7 linked regions of the Homo sapiens genome follow. The protein of the gene in region 4 interacts with the protein of the main gene of each other region in a biochemical or structural test. Each region holds a gene or a part of one and is shown on either strand. Other genes may lie near its edges. The genes, in order: HNRNPC, ADAP1, KPNA1, CSNK1A1, ZRANB1, CHRM3 and GLI3.

Evidence for each region.
Region 1: of the proteins of CSNK1A1 (region 4) and HNRNPC, one has a biochemical effect on the other in vitro, tested with the Homo sapiens proteins (one study listed by BioGRID).
Region 2: the proteins of CSNK1A1 (region 4) and ADAP1 form a complex in vitro, tested with the Homo sapiens proteins (one study listed by BioGRID).
Region 3: the proteins of CSNK1A1 (region 4) and KPNA1 form a complex in vitro, tested with the Homo sapiens proteins (one study listed by IntAct).
Region 5: of the proteins of CSNK1A1 (region 4) and ZRANB1, one has a biochemical effect on the other in vitro, tested with the Homo sapiens proteins (one study listed by BioGRID).
Region 6: the proteins of CSNK1A1 (region 4) and CHRM3 form a complex in vitro, tested with the Homo sapiens proteins (one study listed by BioGRID).
Region 7: of the proteins of CSNK1A1 (region 4) and GLI3, one has a biochemical effect on the other in vitro, tested with the Homo sapiens proteins (one study listed by BioGRID).

Annotation. Positions count from the first base shown.
Region 1 is NC_000014.9:21,227,480-21,231,672, reverse strand, and holds part of HNRNPC (heterogeneous nuclear ribonucleoproteins C1/C2), read left to right. Parts: intron 1-600; coding exon 601-676; coding exon of another isoform or gene 677-715; intron 716-1,306; coding exon 1,307-1,354; intron 1,355-4,193. UniProt on the Homo sapiens protein: Binds pre-mRNA and nucleates the assembly of 40S hnRNP particles. Interacts with poly-U tracts in the 3'-UTR or 5'-UTR of mRNA and modulates the stability and the level of translation of bound mRNA molecules. Single HNRNPC tetramers bind 230-240 nucleotides.
Region 2 is NC_000007.14:897,116-900,449, forward strand, and holds the end of ADAP1 (arf-GAP with dual PH domain-containing protein 1), read right to left. Parts: intron 3,050-3,334; coding exon 2,987-3,049; intron 2,376-2,986; coding exon 2,304-2,375; intron 2,147-2,303; coding exon 1,918-2,146; intron 1,835-1,917; coding exon 1,806-1,834; 3' UTR 785-1,805; downstream 1-784. UniProt on the Homo sapiens protein: GTPase-activating protein for the ADP ribosylation factor family. Binds phosphatidylinositol 3,4,5-trisphosphate (PtdInsP3) and inositol 1,3,4,5-tetrakisphosphate (InsP4). Regulates the incorporation of CD63 and CD9 into multivesicular bodies.
Region 3 is NC_000003.12:122,466,186-122,470,378, forward strand, and holds part of KPNA1 (importin subunit alpha-5), read right to left. Parts: intron 1,245-4,193; coding exon 1,137-1,244; intron 1-1,136. UniProt on the Homo sapiens protein: Functions in nuclear protein import as an adapter protein for nuclear receptor KPNB1. Binds specifically and directly to substrates containing either a simple or bipartite NLS motif.
Region 4 is NC_000005.10:149,506,050-149,510,242, reverse strand, and holds part of CSNK1A1 (casein kinase I isoform alpha), read left to right. Parts: intron 1-289; coding exon 290-364; intron 365-3,109; coding exon 3,110-3,216; intron 3,217-4,193.
Region 5 is NC_000010.11:124,972,917-124,977,109, forward strand, and holds part of ZRANB1 (ubiquitin thioesterase ZRANB1), read left to right. Parts: intron 1-728; coding exon 729-800; intron 801-1,283; coding exon 1,284-1,482; intron 1,483-4,193. UniProt on the Homo sapiens protein: Ubiquitin thioesterase, which specifically hydrolyzes 'Lys-29'-linked and 'Lys-33'-linked diubiquitin. Also cleaves 'Lys-63'-linked chains, but with 40-fold less efficiency compared to 'Lys-29'-linked ones.
Region 6 is NC_000001.11:239,900,360-239,904,552, forward strand, and holds part of CHRM3 (muscarinic acetylcholine receptor M3), read left to right. Parts: intron 1-4,193.
Region 7 is NC_000007.14:41,964,507-41,968,699, reverse strand, and holds part of GLI3 (transcriptional activator GLI3), read left to right. Parts: intron 1-776; coding exon 777-1,104; intron 1,105-2,058; coding exon 2,059-4,193. UniProt on the Homo sapiens protein: Has a dual function as a transcriptional activator and a repressor of the sonic hedgehog (Shh) pathway, and plays a role in limb development.

The sequences.
Region 1 (4,193 bases), on a different chromosome or scaffold from region 4:
ACAAAGAAACGGAAGATGAAGCCTTAGCCTTGTAAAAATTTGTGAGCCTTTTTAATATTAAAAGGAGAGATGAAGCTGAGCTTGATAGCTCACACCTGTGATTCCAGCACTTTGGGAGGTCAAGGCAGATCACGTGACCCCAAGAGTTCGTCCCTACGAAAAATAGAAAAATTAACCAGGCGTGGTGGTCCCTGCTACTTGGGTGGGAGGATCACCTGAGCTTCGGAGGTCTAGGCTGTATTGAGCCATTATTGCATCACTGCACTCCAGCTTGTATGACAGTGAGACAGTGTCTTAAGGAAAGATGAGTTGTTTTGTTCCACATTTTCTAATTTATGTGTCTGTGTGATTTTCTAAACTTCGTAGTTTGTATTAGCTGGGCATGGTGGTGCCCGCCTGTAGTGACAGTTACTCTCGAGGCTGAGGCAGGAGAATCGCTTGAACCGGGAGGTAGAGGTTTCAGTGAGCCAAGGTGACACCACTGCACTCCAGCCTGAGCGAGAAAGCGAAACTATGTCTCAAAAATAAAAAAAATAAACTTTGTAGTTTGTTTTACCCGGATACAAAGTTGTCATTAACATTTTTACTTTTGTTTTTCAGATATTAACCTGGCTGCAGAGCCAAAAGTGAACCGAGGAAAAGCAGGTGTGAAACGATCTGCAGCGGAGATGTACGGGTCAGTAACAGAACACCCTTCTCCGTCCCCTCTACTCAGGTCCGGAACTTTATTATTTATAACTGCATTGTGTCCATCAGTGGGCATCTTCTCTTTCTGTTTTCTGGGTGTGGGGAGGTTTAAGTGTACTGTGTTTTATCTGTGTATAAATAAGGTTTTATTATTTTTGTGTTAATATGTCTCTTTTTTGCCCTAGAGAAAATTTCTAGAGAATTAAAAATCCCTGAGGTTTTTGCTATTGATATTAAAGAGTAGTTTGATATTTATAGCATAACCTGAAATACTTATACAGGATCGTTGAGCTTCTAAGACACTAGAGAGTAAGAGAGGGTAGAAGTGTGGTATAAGAATGCTTAGTTTACCATTCTGTTTTTCAGTGTTTAGTTTAGCTATGTCGTATGTGGAAATCTTAGCGAATTTTAACCTGAATTTCCAATTTGACCGCTACATTTCCAGTGGTCTAAGGTGATTGGAATTGAGTGATTTATTGTATGAATGATTGGGGATCATTCAGTGCTAATCTTGTTGATCTATTTGTTGTGGTTTATTTGGCATGGTTCTCCCCTCACCTGACATTGTGAATTAGTAGAAACATTTCCAAATTAACCCTTTTCGGTATTTATTTTTCAGCTCCTCTTTTGACTTGGACTATGACTTTCAACGGGACTATTATGATAGGTATGTTAAAATGTTTTGTATTTCTGCTAAACAGCTATTTAGTGAGAACCATTTCGTTCTTCTGGTTTGTGGTGATGAACATCAAAGATGTTTTCAAACATACTCCCCTAACTCCAAAACAAAAAAACACCTTTTTCTAAATCATTAAGTAGATTATTAGGTAGGGTGATACTGATTTTAATGCATTATTTCATAATCCCTGGCTAACGTGGTGAAACCCGTTTCTACTAAAAATACAAAAAAATTCGCTGAGTGTGGTGACTAGGGACTGGGTTATGGGTGGCTTTGGGTAACAGATTTAGAACTGTTGATAGCAAATGCTTAACAGGAAATAGGATGATGTGCTTAAGAGTGTTACCACATTGACATTCTGATAACATCAGTCTCAGTTAACATGAAGGAAATGTTAAGACTTATTTGGCTTGTCGCGTTCAAACTCATGCAGTATATGTAAGTATATGGAGCAAACTATTGTATGCAATAGACTTTAAACATGCAATATATAAAGCATATTACTTTATATACTATTTGTCTTATAATGCCAGTATTCCAGTCATTAGTATTTTAATGTTATTACTGTATATAACAATTCAGTCTGATTTTGGAATAAAAATTACTGATTGGGGAATGCTTAACATTTGAACTGAGTTAATCAGTCATGCATGGGAGTTGTAAAGGAATCAAGTCAGCCGTTAAATACCATAAAGTATACACTGAAAGTGTCAGACATGAAAGTATAGACTTTCTGTTTGAGAAATAACCTCACAGAATATGGTACGTAGTCATTAGAAGGCCAGAAGAGTAAGGCCCGAAAAGGAATTCAAATCCAGATTGTAAAGGGCCTTGAATGCCATAATAAAATGGTGTGGTTGAGCATCATTAATGCATCATCAAAATGTTTTTTTCATTTGACATTAGCGGTTTCCTCAGATTTTTTTTTTTTTTTTTTTGAGACAGTCTCGCTCTGTCGCCCATCCTGGAGTGCAGTGGCGCAATCTTGGCTCACTGCAAGCTGCGCCTCCTGGCACAGCCTCCTGAGTAGCTGGGACTACAGGCGCCCGCCACCACACCCGGCTAATTTTTTGTATTTTTAGTAGAGACGGGGCTTCATCGTGTTAGCCAGGATGATCTCGATCTCCTGACCTCATGATCCGTCCGTCTTGGCCTCCCAAAGTGCTGGGATTACAGGCGTGAGCCACCACGCCTGGCCTGATTTTTTTTTTTTTTTTTTTTAAATACGGAATTTTCCTCTCGTCACCAGGCTGGAGTGAAGTGGCGTGATTTTGGCTCACTGCAACATACGCCTCTTTGGTTGAAGCAATTCTCCTGCCTCAGCCTCCCAAGTAGCTGGGGTTACAGGCATGCACCACCACTCCCGGCTAATTTTTGTATTTTTAGTAGAGGCTGGGTTTCACCATGTTGGCCAGGCTGGTCTCGAACTCCTGAACTGAGGTGATCTACTCGCCTTGACCTCCCAAAGTGCTGGGATTACAGGTGTGAGCCACTGTGTCCAGCCCTTTCCTCAGATTTTTACAGTTATGTGTGAACATTTTGAAAACTAAGGAGTTCTGTAATTCTTCATTTTTATTTTTGTTGAAATTTTTGAAATTCTTAAAAAATAAAAATCAGCTGGGCACGGTGGCTCACACCTGTAATCTCAGCACTTTGTGAGGCCAAGGCAGGTGGATCATGAGGTCAGGAGTTCAAGACCAGCCTGGGCAATATGGTGGAACCCCGTCTCTACTAAAAAAATACAAAAATTAGCTGGGCGTGGTGGCACGCGCCTGTAGTCCCAGCTACTCAGGAGGATGATGTAGGAGAATTGCTTGATCCCGGGAGGTGGAGGTTTCAGTGAGTTGAGATCGCGCCACTGCACTCCAGCCTGGGTGACAGAGTGAGACTCCTTCTCAAAAAATAAAACAAAATAAAAATCAATGGAGAACTTCCAGTTGAAAATAAATCAGGACATTACTAGTGAACTCAGCCCATTTATTCCTGAAATTGCAATTTTTTGAATTTTTGCAATCAGACCTTGGTAATGACCTAATGCAGTAGGATATAAATAACTCCGACAAGCTTAGCATTCCAGTAATGGAACATTAGGCATAGATGGGTTAATTATTGGTCAGGTGTCTTGAAGGCACTGAAACCCAGTGAGTTTGTCTGAAGCATCTGCCCTTTAACCCTTTCTGCACATGGTAATTGCTTGACCACATTTAAAATATACTCATGCCAGCTTCTCCTATAGGGATTCTTACACAACTGGTCTTATGCAGACTTTCTTAAGTACTAGTATATTTTTCAGTGCTTTCTATGTGTTCTTTTGTCCAGTCAGAGTTGAGAATCATTAATAAAAGATTAAGGACGTGGTTGTGTTTCTGTGTATTATTATCCTATTTCTTTGTCATGGCTCAATTCAGACCAGTTTAATAAACTCACACTTTTGTTGGTATAATTTCAGGGATGTCATGGACTCTTAGTTGATGTTTTTTATGAGTGTATCAAGTTTTAGCAGTATACAGTGACAGTCTTCTTGAAAATAGTTCTCATTAAAAAGTCTTTTCTTGGCAAGGCACATTGTGAATGGGGAAATTTGAAAATTTGAGCAGGGAATTTGGAAAACATTAGTTGAGACAATGAGATATATACTGCAGAGAAATCTAAAGAAATCACGTTTGCAGAAATATCTTCACAGAAATTGGTGGCCTCTTCAGATTTTCAATAGACAACAATATATTAGGTTTGAGCAAAAGTAATTCCGTTTTTGACATTTCTTTGAACGGTAAAAAGCAAAACCGCAATTATTTTTGCACCAGCCGATACTAGTAGTTACTGTCGG
Region 2 (3,334 bases), on a different chromosome or scaffold from region 4:
AATGTGACAGTCGTCAGTGTCCTCAGCACACACGTGGACACGTGCACATTCGGGGACACGCACACACTGAGCACGTGCCCACACTTCCACGCCATGGGGAGGGCTGTGGGCACTGCTGGTTTCCCCCGGGGGTGTGTCCAGCACAGCCCAGGGCTCTCCCTGACCCAGGCCCACTCCTCTCACCTCGGGTTAGGACCGTGGCACCTGGTGAGGTTGCGGGGCACTTGCCTGGGGTTTCAGCTCCAAGTGGGGGTACCTCGCCCACATCCTCGTCACCAGCACAGCTGCCTTGGGGACCCCTAGGCTGGGATTGGGAGACCTCTACTCCGCCCTAGAGTCCCAGCTCCTCATTGGAGAAGTGGGATTCAGCATGTTCTGTGTGAGGGCTGAGGGGCCCAGCATTGGGGGGGTGGGCTGGCAGGCACAGGGGACCCCCGACCCGGGATGCATCCCCCACACTGTCCTTCATGCTGAGCTTGGCTTGGCTTTCAGGCTGTGGACTCTGCCCAGGAACTGCCTGGCGGGCCTCAGATGGAGGGGGCACCTGGGGAAGGGGGGCACCTGGGGAAGGGGTGCTGGGGGGCACCTCGGGTAGGGACCGTCTCCCGTGTACAAGGAGCATGGCGCTGTGACTAGCTCAGACACCGTGTCCTCCCTCCAAACCTCAGGGAGCGAGGGCCCTGTCAGGTCCCTGGGAGCAGACGAAGATTCTCCTGAAGCCAGGGAGGCAGGGCCACGTGTTCCCAGCCCAACTTCCTCCCCACTCCATCCTCGGACACACAGCTGGAACCATGCCAGAGCCACATTTTATTCCAGGATGCGACACGGGGCGGCGGATGCCTGGCCTCGGAAACCCCCTCCCTGCCTATGAGGGCTTGTCCAGGGCTCCCCTGGAACACAGCTCAGCCAGGCAAGGCTGGGAGAGGGCTGGGCCCCCCAGGTGACCTGCAGACGCCTCCCCCACCTACATGCCCCACGCAAGGGGAGCCCTGGAGCCCGGCCTGCCTTGACAGGAAGGAGATAGGTGAAAAATAAATACACGGCTGGGCCGCCTGCAGCAAGCGCGACAGTGCCCGGGACCCCCAGGGCCACTCCTGCCTCTGGTGGCCTCACCGCGGCCCAGGCCCTCGTCCCCAAGGGTTCAGACACCACTGTCGGCGAGCACCGTGCTGGGCGCAGAGGCCACGTGTGGTGGGACGGCAGCCTGCTGGCCCCTCCAGGTGAGGACCAGGAGCACAGGCTGTGGCAACTCCAGCCCGGGCAGGGGCCGGGACCTGTGTGGATAATCCACCCAAACACCCCACGGCCCTCATAGCCCCGTGACACACAACAGGCGCTCAATAAATAGTCGTGGAGGTGGGGGGAGGGCGGGGCGGCATGCGAGCAGGGCCCAGTCCCCAGCGGCCGGCAGCTGCCCACCGTGCTGGCCCCAAGCAGGGCTCTGCGCTGAGGCCTGGAAGTTCCCACAGCCGTGGTGGGCGGCTCCTGGGGGCTGTGTCTGAGCTCGGGAGCCAGACTGGGCCCTGGAGGAAAGGGGGCCCCGGGTCAGGGAGGGGCAGGTTGGCTGGGTGTGGTCAGCAGCAGCATGACGGGGTTAGAGATCAGGCCCAGGGCCTGGGCTGCCTGCCTTGAGGTTCCAGAGAAGCATCCTGGAAGCTGAAGCTCGGGCCCTACCTGGCCGCGCCGGGCTGCCCTGAGGAGCAGGTGGGGCCAGGTGGCCTCAGGACGCCAGAGCCCCCCCATCCACGGGTCCCCTCCGTCCAGCCACAGTGAGTCCAATGTCCGTGGTCCTCCAGCCGCACTCGCTAAGGTTTATGCTTGAAGTGCGCCTCCACTGCAACGGAACAGGGTCCAGCGTTGTCACAGCGGCGGGGAGCTGGGAGCCCTTCCAGGCCGCCGGCCGCCCGCCCCCCTCACCTGCGTACTCCTGGGGCAGCATGGGCCTGTCCACCGCCTTCTGGAAGGCCGCCACCCACTCCCTCTGGTCGGACTCCGTCTCGCAGGCAAACAGAAACTTGCGGTCGGGCGTGACGATGGTGATGCCATGTGGCCAGTGGTGGCCCTGGGTGGACGGCGGGAACCCATGCAGCACCGTGTAGCCACTCTCCTTGCTGCCAATGAAGACTTCCCCTCGGGCGAAGGCGTCCTGTGGGTGGGGACCGCACTGGAGGCGGGGCCATGTCCCTTCCAGCCCCGCTTCACTCAGGCCAGGACTCGGGAGGCCACCCGCCCTCCTGGTCACGCATCTGGCAACCCCAGCCAGTGAGCTGCCCTCCCGTGCTGGGGCCACAGCTCCTCCTTACCAGGGGGTCTTTGAAGTACATGAGCCTGCGGTCATCCATGGTGAACCAGCGCTTCCGGAAGCCTTCCGTTTGCTGTGGGTCAGAGAGGGCCCGTGACCGGCAGGTCGCCGAGGCAGGCCCTACATCCAGCTGACCACAGCACACCCCGGAGGGCAGGGCCCAGACTGGCCCGGGTCAGTCACCTCCATTCACTCACGCCTGCCGCTGGCCACGCCCCACGAGGCCTCCGCACACGCCTGTCCTCCAGCCTCCACACGGCACCTCCCTCCTGCTCCTCCAGGTCCCCCAGCCCTCCCTGGGCCCCAGATGGGGGCCCAGGCCTCACTTACGAGCCCTCACACCTGCACTTCTCCTCCGGGACCACCAAGACTCCCAGGATTTGTGTCTCCCTCCCACATTATGCCTCAGGGAATGGCAAGATGTGGGCCCCTGGCCGCGCAGGTGCACGGTCCCGTGGGTGAGGAAGCTGGTCAGACGTGAGCGGGCAGGGAGGGTCTAACCAAAGCCTAGGACAGTGGCCCGAGTCCTCGGGGACCCCGGCCAGGCACAGACAAGGGGCTGTGAGGACCCACCAGACACCAGTTTAAAACACAGGCGGCAGCTGGCAAGGCTGCTGCACTTCAGTCCGAGACCCACCATGGCGTACCCCAGGCCACCCCAGGCCGCACGTGCGGCACACCCACCTTGGGCCCCGTCTTCTCCATGTAGCCTTCCTTCAGGTAGTTCCTGGAGAGCTTTGGCACCAGCTAGGGCAGGACACACCAGGCAGGGGACCTCAGAAGTGCAGCTCAGGCCGAGCCCCTCCCTGGCTGTGCCCCTCTGTGCTCCCCTCACCCCGGGCCACCAGGTCAGGGCCCAGGCCTGGCTTAGCCTCCGCAGGATCCACATTTCTGCCTCTGCTTGCCACCCCTTCCCTCCCCGCTTTCCCCTTTGGCTGAGCTGAAGTTCTAGAGTGAGGCAGGAGGGCTGCAGGCACGTCAGGGTGAGCCCTTGGCCAGTCCCAGGCCCACCCTAGGGCTCAACATCATCCC
Region 3 (4,193 bases), on a different chromosome or scaffold from region 4:
CTATGAAATGAAATAAAAATAAAAACTACAAAATACTATGAATAGTATGCCACCATTTACCAAAAAAAAAGGTGGGGGAGAGGAGAACATTTTAATATACAAAAGTTCTCAGAAAGAATAAATAGGAATTTAGTAATACTAGTTGCCAATGGAGAAAAATACTAGGTGGCTAAGCGGAAGAAAGATTTTTCTTCATTTTTTTTAATTGTACTTTTTTTGTTACTACAAACAACAGTACCTTTTAGGAGATAATTTTCTTTTTAAAAAAACTGTGTGTGTGTACACATATATATATATGTACACATATATAACCTATTTTTAAAATTACGTAATTACAATACTCTAGAAATCTAGATAGGTCTAATCCATACAAATAAAGCATGACTTTTATCTCTTCATGTTAACTTCAAAAAAGTAACAAAATGGTTTACAACAGAAAAATCCAAGAGTTCTGATGTGGAATCAAGTTTTTAAATCATACAAACAGGTCAATTTTGTAAATCAATAAAAAATCATTATTTTCTTTAAAGTATCTCTTATGGCTTGGTGTGATGGCTCAAGCTTGTAATTCTAGCACTTTGGGAGGCCAAGGCAAAAGGATCACTTGAGGCCAGGAGTTCACCTGGGCAACACAGTGAGATCCTGTCTCCACAAAAAATTTAAAAATTTGCCAGTCATGGTGGCACATGCCTGTAGTCCCAGCTATTTGGGAGGCTAAAGCAGGAGGATCACTTAAGCCCAGGAGTTCGAGGTTGCAGTGACCTACGATTGCGCCACTGCACTCCAACCTGGGCAACACAGCAAGACCCTGTCTCTAAAACATAAATAAATAAATAAATAAATAAATAAATAAATAAATAAATAAATAAGGTGTCTATTCTTATTCAACTTTTAAAGAGTAATTTTATCTTATAATTAGCTTGTTAAGTTTTTAGAGCAGAATTAATCTTTATAATTTAACTGCACTTTATCCAAAATATAATAAACATTTAATGAACCATGAGATTAAGCATATTCTTTTTAAAAATGAAATGCCAAGTACTTTTTGTAGCCATCTAACCTTTTTTAAAACTCAAAAGGAAATCTACATCTCATATCTTCATCACAAAAACACTGAAAAGAGTTCATTATCTTACTGGTGCCATCTCCATGTTACTAATCTGAGCCTCATGAAAGCCTCCATCTGACATAACTTCTTCTTCTGTTTCTTCTTCTGCTGTAGCAACATTTCTCCGCTTGAATAACTGAAAGATAAAAGATTGGTAGCAATGTAAATGTAAATTCTAACACAAGGGAGTTCAACATTCAAATACTAGGCACCCCATTCAAAGTGAAGTCTTTGAAAATCATTTTTAAAATTCTAAAGCTGTCAGCTTTTACTGATGAGTAACCATTTCAGATTTCTCCATAGTCTTATAATCAAATATAATTAACTATTACAACATGCTATAAACAACACTTGATAATGTAAAACTTACTAAGAGAGGTCTGACACTATATGACATTAAAAAAAAAAAGGTTGGAAAAAGGAGCTGGGTCATGCTTGGCCATTTTCCTCATCCCTTTATGTAAAGTATACATCAGGACAGTCCTAACAATGTACCAAGGAAAATGAAAATAAAAACTATGTTCAAATGACTTAATACTTCCCTCCTAATCTCCAAAGATGGTGGACTGTGGCTTCTGACCTTCCCAACCTATCCAGCAACCAGTGGCAACAAATGATGACTGCTTAAGCACTACCTTTAAAGCAGCTCCGTTAATGTGTATAGGCAAAGGAGACTAGTTCTCTCCAAAGTCAGCCAACGAGGGTGATTACCATTATATCCTTATGAATCCTGGGCAGCACATTTATTCATCAAGCCATGATGGAGTAACAGTAACTTACCCTCTCTCACGCTGAACAACTAAAAACAGACAAAATACATAAAATAATGTTTCAGCCATTGGACAATAAAAACCACAGAGTAGTGATATCTCAGAAAGAAAAACCCAAGATAAGCCCCAATACTGCCTCAGATTACTATGCAGACAGTTCCAGGCTGCAGTGCAGGAAAGGTAAACTCAACCAGAGTTTAGATGCTCCTTGGATTTGAGAAAACACAGTTCAGAGCTGAGAAGGCCAAGAGACCTAAAATTCATAACGCAGAGTACAACACAAAAAGAACACCCAAGATCTACAGGAGGTTCTCTCTGAGATTTAACTTAATACTAATCAGCACATAATCATATTCTTTCAGAAGACAGAAGCAGAGACAGTACTTCTCAACTCATTCTAGGAGATCAGCATTACTCTTAATACCAAAACCACCTACCAAAGGCCTATTTAACAGTAGTTTCTTTTACCCAGTACATGTCCAGCTATCAAGAAAAAATTACAAGGCATACTAAAATATAAAAAACACATTTTGAAGAGACAGAGCAAGTATCAGAACCAGATTCAGCCACGGCAGTGATGTTGAGATTATCGGACCAAGAATTTAAAACTACGATTAATATGCTAAGGGCTTTAAATGGATAAAGTGGACAGCATACAAGAACAGATAGGCAATGTAAGGAGAGAGATGGAAATTCTAAAAAAGAACTAAAAAGAAATGCAAGAGATCAACAACAACAGAAATGAAGAATGCCTTTGATCGACTTTTTAGTAAACAAGACACAGCTAAGGAAATAATCTCTGAGCTTAAGGAAATCTCATTCGAAATCTTTAAAACTGAAAAGAAAACAGAAAAAGGACTGACACAAATAGAACAGAGTATCTATGAACTGAAACAACTACAAATGGTATAATAAACATGGAATGGAACTATCAGGAGGAGAGGAAAGAACAAAAGAAATATTTGACACAATAATGACTGAGAATTTCCCCCAAATTAGTATCAGACACCAAACTGTAGCAGGCCATGTCTCATTAATGCAGGGCTCCATAACAACTGTTTCAGTACTGACTGACTGGTTAAGTTAAATATTAAAAGCTAAAAAAAGCCAGTGCCCTTATACAAAGGCTGGAATCTAACAAAAGCCCACCAAGAGTTTTGCCTAGGCCTTTCCTGGGCCTTAAAGCATAACAAAGAAATTCCCCAGGCCTCCACAAACAAGTTTATTGGATGTCTGAAAGAACTCCCCAAACCTCCACGAGCAGGAGACAAGATAAGGGTAATCACCTCAGCACCTAGATTAAGTAAATTTACTGAGACTCCAGAGGAAGGTCTTCAAGACTCAGACCTTAGTTACAGATTAAAAGAAGTTTCATCACTTATGTCTTTAGATGAATACACACTTACACGCAGACATATAGCTTAAAAGGTATATAATATCTGGAAAACTTTGTAATTTCGAGTTGGTCTGGCAATAATTTCTAGGCCTTCTCCCTGTAACCAGGTACAAAAATAAAAACTCTCTTCCTCCCCAGTTCATCTGCATCTTGTTATTGGGCCATGAGAAACAGCAGCCCAACCCAGTTTGGTCTGGGAACAAAACCACTGGAAGCCCAGAGAACACCAAGCTGGACAAAGGCCAAAAAAATCCCACTACACCTAGGGATATCATTTTCAAACAACAGAAAATCAGAAATAAAGGAAAAACAATCCTAAAAGACAAGGGTAAAAACACTGTACTTAACACATGAATAAAGATAAGAATGATAACCACACATGCCAGAAGAAAGTGAAGTGAAATATTTGAAGTGTTGAGAGAGAAAACCACCAACCTAGAAACTCTGAACCTTGCAAAATCATCCTTCAAAAGTGGAAACAAAAATAAAGATTTTTTTCAGAATACTAAGGAAATTTATTGTCAGTAGACCTGCTTTGCAAGAAATGTTAAACGAAATTCTTTGGCAAAAAGGAAATGATACAGGTCAGAAACTTGGATCTACATAAAGGAAGAACATCAAAGAATGAATAAGTGAATGTAAAATTAAAACATCTTAAAAATTGATTTAGCAGGTAAAATTTTGTTTAAAATAGCAACAATGCATTTGATTATGTAAGCTAATGTGTATATACATAAGATTACAAACATTTCTGTATAAGCTAAATAAGTAGGCGGGGCACGGTGGCTCACACCTGTACTCCCAGCCCTTTGGGAGGAGGCGGCGGGTGGATCATGAGGTCAGGAGATTGAGACTATCTGGGCTAACACAGTGCAACCCCATCTCTACTAAAAATACAAAAAATTAGCCGGGCGTGGCA
Region 4 (4,193 bases):
TTCAATTTTGGCCCCAGCCATTTTTACTTAAATCTAATATCCATATATTCCTATTAGACTCACCCTTTCCCTATAGCTAAAATTAAATTCTTAGAGAAGAAACTTACATCAGAAGTTAACAGTTTGGGAAAAATTTTTTTTAGATGTATTATACTTTGATTTTTTAAATTCTGGGTTAAAATTTCTCTTGAATCTCACAGGTATATGTTTATATGTCTAGTGCGTTAAACTACCATGGTTCTTCTCAGTAGCACTGAGTATATCTTTTTTATTTTATTCTTTTCCACAGGCTGCAACAAAGAAACAAAAATATGAAAAGATTAGTGAAAAGAAGATGTCCACGCCTGTTGAAGTTTTATGTAAGGTAAGTATGCATGATGAATATTAAAAAAATATAAATGAAGCCAGGCACAATGGCTCACACCTGTAATCCCAGCACTTTGGGAGGCCAAGGCAGTAGGTCACATGAGCCCAGGAGTTCAAGACCAGCCTGGGCAACATAGGGAAACCCCATTTCTACCTTAATAGATAAATGATCCGGCTGGGCACAGTGGCTCAAGCCTGCAATCCCAGCACTTTAGAAGGCCGAGGTGGGCGGATCACTTGAGCCCAGAAGTTCCACAAGACCAGCCTGGGCAACATGGTGAAATACCTTATCTACCAAAAATACAAAAATTAGCTGGGTGCAGTGATACACGTCTGTGGTCCCAGCTACTCAGGAGCCTGAGGCAGGAGGATCACTTGAGCCCGGGAGGCTCCAATTGCAGTGGTGAATCTTGGCTGTCTTGCAAGGATCTGAGATTGTGCCACTGCACTCCAGCCTAGGTAACAGAGTAAGACTCTGTCTCAAATGAGTGAATGAATGAATGATCCAGGAAGAAAAAGGAACATTTTATTTGCCAGCTCTGGAACTTGTAACATTGAATTAGGTAGCTATTCACCATTTTAAATTTACATTTTTATTATTCTAAATATCTTTAACAAGGACTTTTAACATAGGGGTCTTTTTAAATAAGTGTTTTGCTAGGCACAGTGGCTCACAGTTGAGGAGCCACTTGGTAGGCTGAAGGAGGGTGGATCGCTTGAGCCCGGGAGTTCCAGACCAGTCTAGGCAACATGGTGAAACCCCATCGCTACAAAAAATGCAAAAATTAGCCTGGCATGGTGACGCATGCCTGTAATCTCAGCTTCTTGGGGATGCTGGGGCAGGATGCTTGAGCCCAGGAGGTCGAGGCTGCAGTGAGCCAAGATTGCACCACTGCAGTCCAGCTTGGGTGACAGAGTGAGACCCTGTCTCAACAACAACAAAAATAAGTAAAATAATAAAAAATAAGTTAAATAAACGTTTTAAGTAAGTAAAATAAGTGTTTTATGTTTCTGGTTTGTTAGGGCTCTCTAATCTGTTGAAAACTAGGGGTAAATAAACAGGGCAGGTAAACATTTTCAATAGAACCTCATTAATCTATAAGAAAAAGTAAGAAATATTCTCCTTACCCTAAACTAGTGCTGGAAAAGAAAGGTTATCAACAATTAGTACATTAAGGAACAGGGAAACATGCAGACAGATTGGAGCAATCCAAAATAGCAGCTGTCCAACAATACAGGAATACAGAAGACAGTTTGAATCACACTCATTTTTTCTGAAATTTTCAACTTCATAGAAAGGCAATTGAGTTTAGAATAGAGAGGTATTTGTGTCATGATGAATAACCATGATCTCATCCATAAAAAGAAGGCCATATGGTCTTTCAGACAAGAAAGAATTGTATACCTGAAATTAAGTACAAAGCAGTATACAAATAAATAGTTGAGGGAAGAAATCAGTGAGAGTTAAAATAGTAATTATAAAGTGGTGAGATTGTTTTCAGTCTCATTGTCATACTGTTTACCATTAACACGGGCCATAAATGTATATAAATGTTGAGTTTTAGAAAGATGTATAATATGTATTATTTTACATCTTTTAACATATGTATATGTTTCAAGTGGTCACCCAATTTATATCGGTGCAATCAATAAAAAATGTTGCAAGCATTTCCATTCTATCCTTCCTAACTCCAGGACATGAGAAATTTCTCATAAGGTTGTAGAAAGAGATTGTAACTTTAACTCTACAATCATAAGGTTGTAGAAAGAGACTGCCTCCTTTAACTTTACCACTCTCCACATTGGCATTTACTCTAGGAGAGGAGATATAGAGGTTTGTGCTCTTTTAATATTTTGTATTTCCACATTGCTGATTGGGGAAATCCTTTTGGTGACTGATACCTAGAGCCTTGAAAATGTTTATACATTGTTGAGAATCTTTCCTAAGGAGCTAAATGGAAAAATTCTATGCCCACAGATGTACTTAGCAGTATTATTAATAATAGAGAAAAATTAGAATACATCCAAATGTTCAATTATAAAGAACAAGTTAATGATGTATATACTAGGTAGAATATCATGCAACCATTTAGAAACTTCTGAAGGCTGGGCATGGTGGCTCACACCTGTAATCCCAGCACTGTGGGAGACCAAGGAGGCCAAGGGGGGCAGATCTCTTGAGCTCGGGAATTTGAGACCATCCTTGGCAATCTGACAAAACCCTGTCTCTACTAAAAAATACAAAAAATTAGCTGGGCGTGGTAGCTCGTGTCTGTAGTCCCAGCTACTCAGGAAGCTGAGGTTGGAGGATCGCTTGAAGCCTGGGAGGTGGAGGTTGCAGTAAGCTGAGATTACACTACTGCACTCCAGCCTGGGAGACAGATTGAGACCCTGTCTTTAAAAAAAAAAAAAGTTCACGAAGAGGCGCGACTTTGATAAAATGACAGGTTTTAACAAGTGGGCTATGTAAGTTATTTAAGAACATAGTACTGTATAGGAAAAGCACTATATGGGAAGAACATATGTATTTCTTCTACTAATATTGTACATAATAGGGTAGGTAGGGTCATGAAATTTTATTTAAATTTATGAGGAGACCAAGCCATCATTTTAGCTCTCATATCTTCCTATGAAATGGTAAAATATCCCGCCCAAAAATATCTTTTTGCTTATACTTAAATGCATTTATTTTTCTATCTTGAAATGTTTGTTTTTAACTTTGTTTTAACCCTTGAACCTATAGGGGTTTCCTGCAGAATTTGCGATGTACTTAAACTATTGTCGTGGGCTACGCTTTGAGGAAGCCCCAGATTACATGTATCTGAGGCAGCTATTCCGCATTCTTTTCAGGTCAGTTTTTAAGGTATTTTAAGATTATAAACTCTGTGAGGGAAATTGGTTAAATTTACCTAACAAATTCATTCTGATAAATACTAAAGTAAAGCAGATCTAGCTAACATGAATAAAAGGTTTCAGAAACTGATTTATTTGGGACTAATTTGGCATTTTTCTATTTGTAGTGTAAATAGGTGATTTTAGTTTGGAGTGGATAGAGAGTTGAATCATACTCAAAGTAGAATGTAACTTTTCCAGAATAGTTATAATTCATATTAGATATAAGTGGCTGTCAGTGCCTTCTGGAACTCTCCAACTTTGTACAGTACCAAATAAAAAGCAATTAAAATATCACATAGTCATGGAGTCTGATCAAGTGGTAGCAGTCCTAAACTAGGGTAGGGTTCCTTAGGCACAACCCAGAACTGGTCTTGAAAAAGGGGGGGGAATAGATTACATGTGGCTCAAACTCTTAGTTGGAAGAGAGTAAGAATTGAGGTAATCCGCCCAGGTACGGTGGCTCACGCCTGTAATCCCAGCACTTTGGGAGGCCGAGGCGGGCAGATCGCTTGAGGTCAGGAGTTAGAGACCAGCCTGCCCGACATGGTGAAGCCCCATCTTTACTAAAAATACAAAAATTAGCCGGGTGAGGTGGTGCTCACCTTTAATCCCAGCGACTCGGGAGGCTGAGGCAGGAGAATCTCTTGAACCTGGGAAGCGGAGGTTGCAGTCAGCTGAGATCCCCCCAGTGCACTCCAACCTGGGTGACAATGAGGCTCTGTCTCAAAAGAGAAAAACAAAGAATTCAAGTAATCTGCCAGGTGCAATGGCTCACACCTATAATCCTAGCACTTTGGGAGGCCGATGGGGGTGGATCACCTGAGGCCAGGAGCTCGAGACCAGCCTGGCCAACATGGTGAAACCCCGTCTCTGCTACAAATACAAAAATTAGCTGGGTATGGTGGCAGGCGCCTGTAATCCCAGCTACTCAG
Region 5 (4,193 bases), on a different chromosome or scaffold from region 4:
TAGGCACATGCCACCCACCCCTGGCTAATTTTTAATTTTTTTGTAGAGATGGAGTCTCGCAGTATTACTCAGGCTAGATCTCAGTGTTTTTAATTTTTATGTTCAGACAAACGGATTTTTACAAATTGTAGGAGATAGTAACTAAGTTTTCTGAAACTGGAGGAAGTTTCATTTGAAATGCACTTGTTCTGAGTATTTAAGCTTACCCCAGAATGATTAGATTTTTAAAAATTTATTTTTTATTTTTATTTTTTGAGACAGGGTCTTACTCTATCGCCTAGGCTGGAGTGCGGTGGCAGGATCACGGCTCATTGCAGCCTTGGCCTCCCCAGGCTCAAACAGTTCTCTCACCGTAGCCTCCTGAGTAGCTGGGACACAGGTGTCTGCTGCCTTGTCTGATTAATTTTTGTATATTTTTTGTATAGAGACAGGGTTTTGCCGTGTTGCCCAGGCTGGGCTCAGAATCCTGAGTTCAAGCAGTATGCTGGCCTCAGCCTCCCAAAGTGCTGGAATTATAGGCGTGAGCCATTGCACCCGGCCCAGAAAAGAAATATTTTATATCACACATGTTACACTGGTATATTAAGAAAAAGCTATCTGATAACCTTCAATGGAAAGGGAGTTATTTTAGAGAAAGTTACTAGTAGGTAATTAATAAGTGTAATTAAGTATAAGTTAAGTGTAAGTTATGAAACAAAAGATCTTTTAAGTTTGCATTTTCTTTGTAGATATTGAAGATTTGCCCCCAACAGTCCAAGAAAAATTATTTGATGAGGTGCTTGATAGAGACGTTCAAAAAGGTAAGCATGGAATTAATGAGTATAATTTACCTTTCATCTGATCAAGTAAGTTTTGTTTAGTAAGGCATGGTGTAGTTTGGTGTGTAGTCAACTTGCTTTATTTTTATTTTAAATTAAAGACGTAAAGTCCTGAAGTTCAGTGTTATATTGTATGGTTCACTGTTACAGAGTGAACAAATAAAGATACAAAAATTTTAAAACCTTGGTTCTCCGCTTCCTGTTCCAGAATGTATATATTTCTATATGAAACACTTTTTAGAAAATAAAACTGTAAAGAATTTAAAAGTTTATTAAATTATTCTAGAGACAGAAGATGTTTCAAGTACTCAAAAGTTTATATTTCAATTGGTCAATTTTATTTAGGTGTTTATTGGTAAATTACATATAAACCATTTTATAGCTAGAAAATAGGTTCTTCTCCCCATGAGTATTCTCTAATGACATAGGTATGGAAATGAACATGTATTTAAATCCATCGTACAGAATTAGAAGAAGAATCTCCAATTATTAACTGGTCCTTGGAATTGGCTACACGTTTGGACAGTCGACTGTATGCACTTTGGAACCGGACTGCAGGAGACTGCCTACTTGATTCAGTTCTACAAGCTACCTGGGGCATCTATGACAAGGACTCAGTGCTTCGGAAAGCCCTGCATGACAGCCTGCATGACTGTTCACATTGGTGAGCTGGCATTCTGCCCTGTTTCAACCCAGGAGTGCATTTGCTGGATTATTTCCTTGTAGTGGTGGGATACTTTTTATGTCAGTTATATTTTCTATGGAAACTGGAGGAAAAACAGTTCATTTTGGACATTAAAATACTTTGAACACGTCCATGGTTTCTGTTTTTGTTTTTCCCCCAAGAAATGAGATAAAAGCAAGAATCAATGGTTTTTATACATTTTTTTGCTAAATTTTAAAATAGAAACATTTGAAGCTTTAAAATGCAAGCATTTATTGTTTCTATAAGACACAGGCAGTATATTTGAACATTTCAAATGCAGCATTTCAAGTTATATATAGTAGCCTTAAATATTGATAAGGCCGTTGCTCATCTTTTTAGGGATTGATTGACTGATTGATTGATTGATCCATCGATGGAAGCAGGGTCTGGCTCAATTGCTGTGCTGGAGTGCAGTGGTGCAGTCTTGGCCCACTGCATCCTCCACCTCCTGGGCTCAAGCCATCCATCCACCTCAGCCTCCTGAGTAGCTAGAACTACAGGTGCTCATCACCATGCCTGGCTGTTTTATGTATTTTTGGTAGAGATGGAGTTTTGCCATCTTTCCCAGGGTGGCTTTGATAATCCTGATCTCAAGCGATCCGCCTGCCTGGGGCCCCCAAAGTGCTTGGATGACAGGCCTGAGCTGCCGCACCCAGCCTTATTGAATATTTGTGTTCACATAAGAGGTTATCTTGACATTGTGTTACAAGTTTTTTTCCTTCCTGAGGGAGTCTTAAGATCACATTTTTTATTTTGCAAATTTTCAAACCCATGGAATAATTTTAAAAAAATTCAGTGCAATAGATCCTGGTATTTTCTTCATTCAGTTGAGCAGTTATTAACATTTTGCCACACCTGCTCCATGTCTCCATACAGAAAGACTCGTGGGTCAATTCGTTGTAGACATCATGATGCTTTACCCTTCAAAATATCAACATACATCTTTCCAGAATAAGAATATTGTCCTACTCACCCACATCCCCATTCCTACATCTAAGTAATTCAACATTGATTCTGTTATCTAACAGTTCATAATCACATTTCTTCAATTGTATCAAAGTGTTCTTTATATATATATTTTTTAACAGCATGCAATCACTGGAAAAATAATTGTTTTTGTGAATGAATAGTTCAGTCTTTACATTTGTTTGACTTATGTGGTATTTTTTTGGTTCTTTGAACATTATCTCATTTAGTTATTACAGGCATGAGCCACCGTGCCCGGCCTATAAATTACTTTCTTGAGAGCTAAATTGTAGATCAAAGCATAATGCAGTATGGCTGGGGTTTGTGGCTCATGCCTGCAATCCTATTGCTTTGGGAGGCTGAGGCAGGCAGATCATTTGAGGCCAGGAGTTCAAGACCAGCCTGGCCAACTTGTTGAAACCCTGTCTCTACTAAAAATACAAAAATTAGCCAGGTGTGGTGGTGCATGCCTATAATCCCAGCTATTCAGGAAGCTGAGGCACGAGAATTGCTTAAATCCAGGAGGAAGAGGAGGTTGCAGCGAGCCAAGATCGTGCCACAGCACTCCAGCCTGGGTGACAGAGTGAGACTGTCTTGTGGGGAGCGGAGGGGGAAGCATAACGTAATAGAGTAACAATTTGTGGGCACATTAGAGAAATAAAATAACTTCCTGGATGACCTGACTGGATGTATAATAAAGCTAAAGAATGAATGTGTCACTCCGGTAGTTTTAGTCAATTAGTAATTGTCCTGGAGAGAGGGCTCTTTTGTGCCTCTTAGTGGAGATGGCTGTCTGGTAGTATGAAGTAGGTTCATCGGGCTGGGTAAGCCTGATGCTGGTCAGTGCTCTGCCGGTCTGGCCCTCTTGATCAGATCCTGTGGTCACCAAGCAGCTTCCTGTTGCTGATTTTCTTAGCTTCCTACTGCTGATTTTCTTGACCACTGCTATGGGCCTGTCTATGTCAAGAGGATGAACCTGGTTTGGTTCCTAAGACAGTGGGTTCTTGGCATTGTGGTTTCACAGGTCTGCCTTGTAGTTTTGGTTAATGTCACTCTGCCCTGTAAGATGGAAAGCCAGGTTTGAACTGTGGTAAATCTACCACTTTGCAGGTTCTCTCTAAAAAGGCAGCCAGTAATCTTTTCTTTGGTGGTAATTTCCTTTTTTTTTTTTTTTTTTTTTTTTGAGGCAGAGTCTTACTCTGTCGCCCAGGCTGGAGTGCAGTGGCATGATCTCGGCTCACTGCAACCTCTGCCTCCCGGGTTCAAGCAATTCTCGTGCCTCAGCCTTCGAAGTAGCTGGGATTACAGGTGGCGCCACCATACCTGGCTAATTTTTTGTATTTTTAGTAGAGATGGGGTTTCACCATGTTGCCCAGGCTGGTCTCGAACTCCTGAGCTCAGGCAGTCCGCCCACCTCGACCTCCCAAAGTGCTAGGATTACAGGCGTGAGCCACCGCGCCTGGCCTTTTCTTTGGTGGTAATTTCCTGATCTGTTGAAAGGCCAAAAGTACACTGTGGATTTTAGAAGTGATGTCTTTTTTTTAGTGATGAGGGTTTTTGGTGGTGGTGTTTGTTTTTTGAGAAAGGGTCTTGCTCTGTCACCCAGGCTGAAATGCAGGGGCACGATCTTGGCTCACTGCATCCTTCACTTTCTTGGGCTCAGGTGATCCTCCCACCTCAGCTTCCTATGAGTGGCTGGGACT
Region 6 (4,193 bases), on a different chromosome or scaffold from region 4:
AAGTACTTTTAGATATTCTTTTTTTTTTTTTTTTTTGAAATCCTTATGACCGGCTGATCACTTTCTCCTGTTGTCATCCTGGGTACCGATAGGACCTCCGTTGCTGAGCCTCCAGAGAACAGTCCTTTTAATGAGGCCGTGGCCCCAAGGCCTCGGAGAAGTTCATAGAAAATGTCTGAAAGAAGGTGGGAGGGATCTTGTTTCCTGGCCCTATAGGGACATTGTCTTCCTTGATAAAGCTGGGTACAGCCTTGATATGAATAGATTGGGGAGCACCAGGAATGTACCTCACCTGGGCTGTCGAGAAAAGACAGTGTGCTCAGAAGAGGTATGGCAGGTGCTGAATATTCCCTTGGAGGGACGAAGGCAAGAAAGGCCCCTACAGCAATGAGGGGAGAAAATCCACAACCCAAGTAGAACTAGGATTTCTTATGTGTGAGACAATACATTGCTCATTTACATGTAAAGTGTGTATAATATTTTTAATCCATCGTATTCAGGCGAGCAAGATCAGTCATTTCATTTTTGTATAACTTGCCTCGAAGCTGCCTGTTGTGGCCCCATTCTGCATAGCAAATCACCACAAACTTAGCAGCTTACAACAAGGTTCCCTGTTCAGGGTCTCAACACTGAAATCAAGGTGTTCGCCCAGCTGAGTTTACGTCTTAGGCAAGACTAAGGAAGAATTCATTACCACAGGCATTCAGGTCATCGGTGCTTCTGCCATGGTGACCTAGTGACCTCTGAGCAGCTGCCACCTCTGGGCACCAGACAGGAGGGCATGAGGCACGCATCTTCTTTGAGTCTGATCAATATTATCAGATGCGACCTCTTTTTCCTCCAACCTTCTCCGCATTTAAAAGCAACAGCAGAGTGTAAGGCAAGATTCCAAGCCCTCCTTGGCAACCATCACCAATATCTGCCCCCTTTTAACTCTCTTCTTCACTTCCTTCTGGCTTCGGAAACTTTGGGATTTTTTTTTTTTTCCTCATTCGGGACATTACAGATTGAGCTGAAGTCTTCTTTGTCCATCACCCTCAATCCTAATTTTATCTTCCTCCTCCAAAATACCACTGCTAATATATGATTTGCATGTAAATCTTTCTATCCTTCTATGACAATTTTAATTATATTAATATACTAAAGGTGGTATCTGTCTATATGTCTGTATACAACCTTTAGTATACAGGCATGTACAATCTTTAGTATACTATTGCTGTGTTTTATTGTAAACTAAATTTTATCGTGTTGTATTTGTCATCCCACAACTTGCCTTTCTTACTTAACAAAGTATTTTTAGATGGTTCTAAGTTAATATATATCTAGTTGATTGCTTTTATCTGCTGCATAGTATTCCCTTTTATGAATGACCTCATTTTTGAATTCATTTCAAAACGAATGGTCTTATAGATTTTCCTCATTTTTGTCATAAAAATAAATGCTTCAGTTAATAGCCTTGGGCGTGTCTCCTTGTGTACATACGAATGCAATAATTTCTAGAGGGTAGATACCTAGCAGTTGGATTGCTAGTTCATGGTGTACATGCCTTTTCAGTTTTAATTAATACTTCCAAATCACCTTTTTGTAGTACTTATTATCAATTTATTCACTCTGGATGTGGCAAGGGGAGATTTTTCTTATTTTCCTAGTGTGTAGGTCAGTATACCATGCATTGATGCTCAGAAGACCAAGTGTTTGCAGTTTCAAAGCCCTTATCTTTAAATCCCTTCTCTCTACCAGAGTATTTAAAATCTACTTTAAAAAGCAAAAAATGAGGAAACACTGGTTTCTTTCTCCCTGTGTTTCTAAAGTAACAACACAACCCTGAGAACACAAAAAGTTAGCATTGGGAGAAGGGAGGCAAGATCCCCGTTAATACTTCAGAGTATTAGCCTACAACACCACAATGCTTCTTATCTTCTCCATAATCTACAGATCAGGCGATAGTATTCTAGTTTTATAGATGAAGAAAGGTCGTCTCAAAATAGTCAAGTAATTTGGTAAGTTTATACATCTCCTGGGCCAACCCAGAACTCAGACCCAAATCAGCAAAACTCCAAAGAAAGACCACAGCTTTTCAACTCTGCTCTATTGCTTTCTAATAAAAAAAATTAATGACGATGAGAACATCATCTTTATTAATAGAGTGGTATTAATGTATCTCATCACATCAGAACCCCAAATGAGTACCCACGACTTCCTAAACATTTCTGTCTTCGTAGCTAGAAGTCACAGTGGGTTTTAGTAGTGTGCTTTGCTTAAAATTTCTGCTTCCCATTCAAAAGGCTTTATTTTCCTCAAAGTTATGTTCATATACCACATTCCCTTCTTTTCTCGTTGCTTTAATATCTGAGGTTCTTAGAAGGAAACCCAAGGGTAGCATTAGGACTGCCATGGTTATTGACTATTAACTCGTTAACTTATTAACTCTTGTCCTTTGGATGTTGTATCACATGGGTAAGCAAATGCCTATAAGTCATTTCCCTCTAATGGTTCTTGTCTACCTTTAAAATTTTTGCTCATCTCATACTGCACATCTATTGCATGACAGAAAAGGACTGGAACATTTTTAAATAAGGAAAAGCACATCTCTGAGAATTTCAGAAACGTATTAGATATTGAATGAATGTCAAAGTGTAAGAAGAATGATGGCCAATGGTAGATATGACAAAGAGTACAGGTCAAAGATAAACAGGTATTTAATTAACCTAATATAGAGAGCTAAACTCACCTATAGCTGACTTTCCTCAATTCTGGCTTCTTTCATTTTCTGTATTCAAACAAAGCATAATTGGACTAGAATACTATTCATTTGGGGGGGCTCTTCAGATTCACAGGATGAAATGAACTAAAAGAAAACAACTGACCTTAGGCTAATTTCGAAAATTTTTACTTATATTCTTCAACAATATAGGTCAACTGAGCAAATTAAATTGCTGTTGAATGTATACAAACATAATGTGATTATCCACAGAGAGTAATTTGATATTGCCTAAATAACTTTGTGTTTTTAAAAATCTTTTATTTGTATTCCATCTCTTACCTGGGGGTGAGTTTATGAAATGCAGAGGCTGTGGAATCCCTGAATTCCACAGCACCAGTCACCATAATCTAAAGCTAGCAGTGGTTAAATGAGCTTGTGCTGATATTGACAAAGACAGAACACCTTTTAGTTGCAGGTGACAGAAAGTATCTCTGGTAGCCCAGGCAACAAAGGAAAGGCAAGGTCAAGGAGGTGGTGTTCACCTCAGGAGTGGCTAAATTCAGGTTTCAAAGGACATCATCATCATGCTGTCTCTGTTTCCCATACTCCCTCCCATCTCTCTCCTTCCTTCATGCCTTTCCTCTATGTTTGCTTACTCTAGATTTCCCATGTGGTGGCAAATAGGGTGATCAGCACCTAGTAATTCCAAATATAAGAGAATCACTGTCTCATTCCAACATCCACATCAAATCTCCAAATCAACCCTCCTGCCTGGGTCTTCTTCATGTTCATTGTTGTGGTAGAGGAGCGAGGACCATCTGATTGATGCCTGTCCCAAACTACATACTGTGGGTGACAGGCTATTTCCAAAAAGACAGCTGAAAGAAAGACAAATAGTAGATACCCACTGCATGGCTTTAACCAACAAAGATGAAAGAAGAAAGAAGTATCATCAGCACAAATATGAATATAGCATCGGGATGATTGGGCATTACATTATTTATAATAAAACCAGCATGGCATAAGTCCTGAAAATGGGGCTACAGGACATGATTACCTCCCATGGGACATGAAAGCAGAGACCTAGATAGTAGAAATGAGGAAACGTAGCTGCTGTGTTCAGGAATCTCAGGAGTGAAGGAGATTTCAGAAAGAGAAAGGCCCTTCAGAGTACATGAGAAATAAACACAGGCCCGGTGCTGGAAAACCAAACTGGATGAATAAAGATGATAATCTAAAGAGGACCAAATGCCACTTATCGGCGTATGGGGCCGAGAGCATTTAAGAGGCACCCCAGACTCCCCAGTAGACCAATAGTAATAGTAGTTATTAACCTCAGAGACAGGGTGTTGACCTGATTAAAGGCACATCTGTCCTTGTGAATATACATAGTCACAGGTGCAATGGAGAGATAACAAGGCAAACACCTTTAGAACTGCAGTAAACTGGTATCTGGATGGGGGGAGAGCAGCAGACAGATCTTCTGTAC
Region 7 (4,193 bases), on a different chromosome or scaffold from region 4:
TTCTTTCTTTCTTCTTTCTTTCTTTCTTTCTTGGTATAGCACAAGCTAAGTGATTGAAGTTTTACCTCTCTCAACTGCTTTTACTGACACCTTGGTTGAGGTTCTACAAAAGCAAGAAAATGTGGAAGGAGGGAGGAGAGGTTACAAAGAGCTTGGCTAACCAGCCCTGAACAGCCTAGAGGGGCTCTTGTTGGAGGAGGTAATGTGTGCTGATGGCGCATATCTTACATTTATGTTTCAGCTGAGCAAAATGAACCTCAAGACTAAAACCACCCGGGATCATAATAATTGCTAACATCCTGTGAACCAATTGCTATTATCCAGGTCTTTTTATACTTGTGTGCTCTCTGGGCTTCACACTTAATTCCTCACAACAATCCCTGAAATAAATGGTCCCTGTTTTATAGATAAGGAAACTGAGGTTTAGAGTGGCTAAGTAATGTGCCCAAAGAATAAAGTGGTGGAGATGGGATTGGAACCGAGGAAGTATGTCTGCAGAGTTGGCGATTGGGGCAGGATTCCATGGCTGATACCATGCCAGTCACACTGCAGCTAGCATTCTCTGCTTTCCATTGCCTCCTGTTGCCCATCAGCCTGGTGGTCCATCCGTCATTCTGGCCAAAAGTGGCCAGCTCCATTCACCAGAACATAGTTTTTCTTCTCATTCAACCAACTGATGATCTTGAAGATCTCGATATGCATGAGCTCTCATTATTGGCTCCCTTTCCTTGACCCTCCCTGGTGACATTTCTTTCCTTTCCACTTGACCCCAACAGACATCTCAGCCAAGCCCTGGTGGTCAGTCTTCATGCAGCAGCCAACAGTCCCCCATCAGCAACTATTCCAACAGTGGGCTCGAGCTTCCTCTGACCGATGGAGGTAGTATAGGAGACCTCAGTGCCATCGATGAAACCCCAATCATGGACTCAACCATTTCCACTGCAACCACAGCCCTTGCTTTGCAAGCCAGGAGAAACCCGGCAGGGACCAAATGGATGGAGCACGTAAAACTAGAAAGGCTAAAACAAGTGAATGGAATGTTTCCGCGACTGAACCCCATTCTACCCCCTAAAGCCCCTGCGGTCTCTCCTCTCATAGGAAATGGTGAGTTCTACATCAGACCATGCATCTGCTCAGGGTTTTTTTTTCTGTTCTTTTAAATGCAGGCCCTCAGTTTTATGTTTGCTAGTTTCTCCACCAGTCCTAAAATGACGCTGTAACCATCCGTTAATGTTTAGCCCATTCAAGTTGCCTTTTGGGATTGTCCATATTTTAAAAACAGCTAGGAACAGGATAATATTGAGAAAAAAATGTGACTGTGCATGACTCATATTCTGATGGTGAAATCATAACTGTTAGATTAGGGTAAGGGAATGCCAGCAGTGGAGGCATCTGTGGTTGGAACTCTGTCTCTGGTTTCCAAAATTTAAAACCACGAGGTTAGCAGCCACTTTTATTTATATTTACCCAGTTCAAGGAAAGTCAGAAATCCCTCCCCACTGTCAGTCCCCAGGTCAGTTTGCACTTCTGAGATTACACTTCTGAGAGCACCTAAGGGGTGAAGCTCTTGCCTGCACCAACACAGGTGTTACCTGTTGGTAGGATGTGGCATGAACAGGACGCCCTGAGCGTGAATGTGAAACTCGTGGAGTACCTTTGCCTGGGGACTTGCCTGGAACTCAAGCGTTGTGTACCATCACAAGATTCTTTTTGTCCTTGCACAGCGCTTGGGGAGGGGCTTCAGTGAATCGAGGGAGTTGTTATTGTTTTGTTTAAGCCAGGCATCAGCAAACTACAGCCTGCGGCCATCTCCAGCCGCCCCTGTTTTTGTAAAGGAAGCTTCATGGACACCCCGCCACGCTTGCTTGCTCACTGCTCTCTGTGGCCGTGTTGGGGCTACACTGCAGAGCTGAGTAGTTGTGAGGCAGGCAATGTGGCCTGGGACACCAGAAATAGTTCCTAGCTGGCCCTTTACAGAAAAGGGTTGCTCATGCCTGGTGTAAGTCATGCTCGAAGGGAATTCATCTCCGCATGGTCTCTCCCTTTCTCTGTCTCCAGGCACACAGTCCAACAACACCTGCAGCTTGGGTGGGCCCATGACGCTTCTCCCGGGCAGAAGCGACCTCTCTGGGGTGGACGTCACTATGCTGAACATGCTCAACAGAAGGGACAGCAGCGCCAGCACCATCAGCTCGGCCTACCTGAGCAGCCGCCGCTCCTCAGGGATCTCGCCCTGCTTCTCCAGCCGCCGCTCCAGCGAGGCGTCACAGGCCGAGGGCCGGCCGCAGAACGTGAGCGTGGCCGACTCCTACGACCCCATCTCCACCGACGCCTCGCGCCGCTCCAGCGAAGCCAGCCAGAGCGACGGCCTGCCCAGCCTGCTCAGCCTCACGCCCGCCCAGCAGTACCGCCTCAAGGCCAAGTACGCGGCTGCCACAGGAGGGCCGCCGCCGACGCCCCTGCCCAACATGGAGAGGATGAGCCTGAAGACGCGCCTGGCGCTGCTCGGGGATGCCCTCGAGCCTGGCGTGGCCCTGCCTCCAGTTCATGCCCCGAGGAGGTGCAGCGACGGGGGAGCCCACGGCTACGGGCGGCGCCACCTGCAGCCGCACGATGCGCCGGGCCACGGCGTGAGGAGGGCCAGCGACCCGGTGCGGACAGGCTCCGAGGGCCTGGCCCTGCCTCGTGTGCCGCGCTTCAGCAGCCTCAGCAGCTGCAACCCCCCGGCGATGGCCACGTCCGCGGAGAAGCGCAGTCTCGTGCTTCAGAATTACACGCGGCCCGAGGGCGGCCAGTCCCGAAACTTCCACTCGTCCCCCTGTCCTCCCAGCATCACCGAGAACGTCACCCTGGAGTCCCTGACCATGGACGCTGATGCCAACCTGAACGATGAGGATTTCCTGCCGGACGACGTGGTGCAGTATTTAAATTCCCAGAACCAAGCAGGGTACGAGCAGCACTTCCCCAGCGCCCTCCCGGACGACAGCAAAGTGCCCCACGGGCCCGGTGACTTTGACGCGCCCGGGCTGCCAGACAGCCACGCTGGCCAGCAGTTCCATGCCCTCGAGCAGCCCTGCCCCGAGGGCAGCAAAACCGACCTGCCCATTCAGTGGAACGAAGTCAGCTCCGGAAGCGCCGACCTGTCCTCCTCCAAGCTCAAGTGTGGGCCGCGGCCCGCTGTGCCGCAGACTCGCGCCTTTGGGTTCTGCAACGGCATGGTCGTCCACCCGCAGAACCCCTTGAGGAGCGGGCCTGCTGGGGGCTATCAGACCCTCGGGGAGAACAGCAACCCCTACGGTGGCCCAGAGCACTTGATGCTCCACAACAGCCCCGGAAGTGGCACCAGTGGAAACGCCTTCCATGAACAGCCCTGTAAGGCCCCGCAGTATGGGAACTGTCTCAACAGGCAGCCAGTGGCCCCTGGTGCACTCGACGGTGCCTGTGGTGCCGGGATTCAAGCCTCAAAGCTGAAGAGCACCCCCATGCAAGGGAGCGGGGGCCAGCTGAATTTCGGCCTGCCGGTAGCGCCAAATGAGTCAGCTGGCAGCATGGTGAATGGCATGCAGAACCAGGACCCAGTGGGACAGGGGTACCTGGCTCACCAGCTCCTCGGCGACAGCATGCAGCACCCGGGGGCAGGCCGCCCCGGTCAGCAGATGCTTGGGCAGATTAGTGCTACCTCACACATCAACATCTACCAAGGGCCAGAGAGCTGCCTGCCAGGGGCTCACGGCATGGGCAGCCAGCCGTCAAGCTTGGCAGTTGTCAGGGGCTACCAGCCATGTGCCAGCTTTGGGGGCAGCAGGCGCCAGGCTATGCCGAGGGACAGCCTTGCTCTGCAGTCAGGACAGCTCAGTGACACAAGTCAGACCTGCAGGGTGAATGGTATCAAGATGGAGATGAAAGGGCAGCCCCATCCGCTGTGCTCTAATCTGCAGAATTACTCTGGTCAGTTCTATGACCAAACCGTGGGCTTCAGTCAGCAAGACACGAAAGCTGGTTCATTCTCTATTTCAGACGCCAGCTGCCTGCTACAGGGGACCAGCGCCAAAAACTCTGAGTTACTTTCCCCAGGTGCTAATCAGGTGACAAGCACAGTGGACAGCCTCGACAGCCATGACCTGGAAGGGGTACAGATTGACTTCGATGCCATCATAGACGATGGGGACCACTCCAGCCTGATGTCGGGGGCC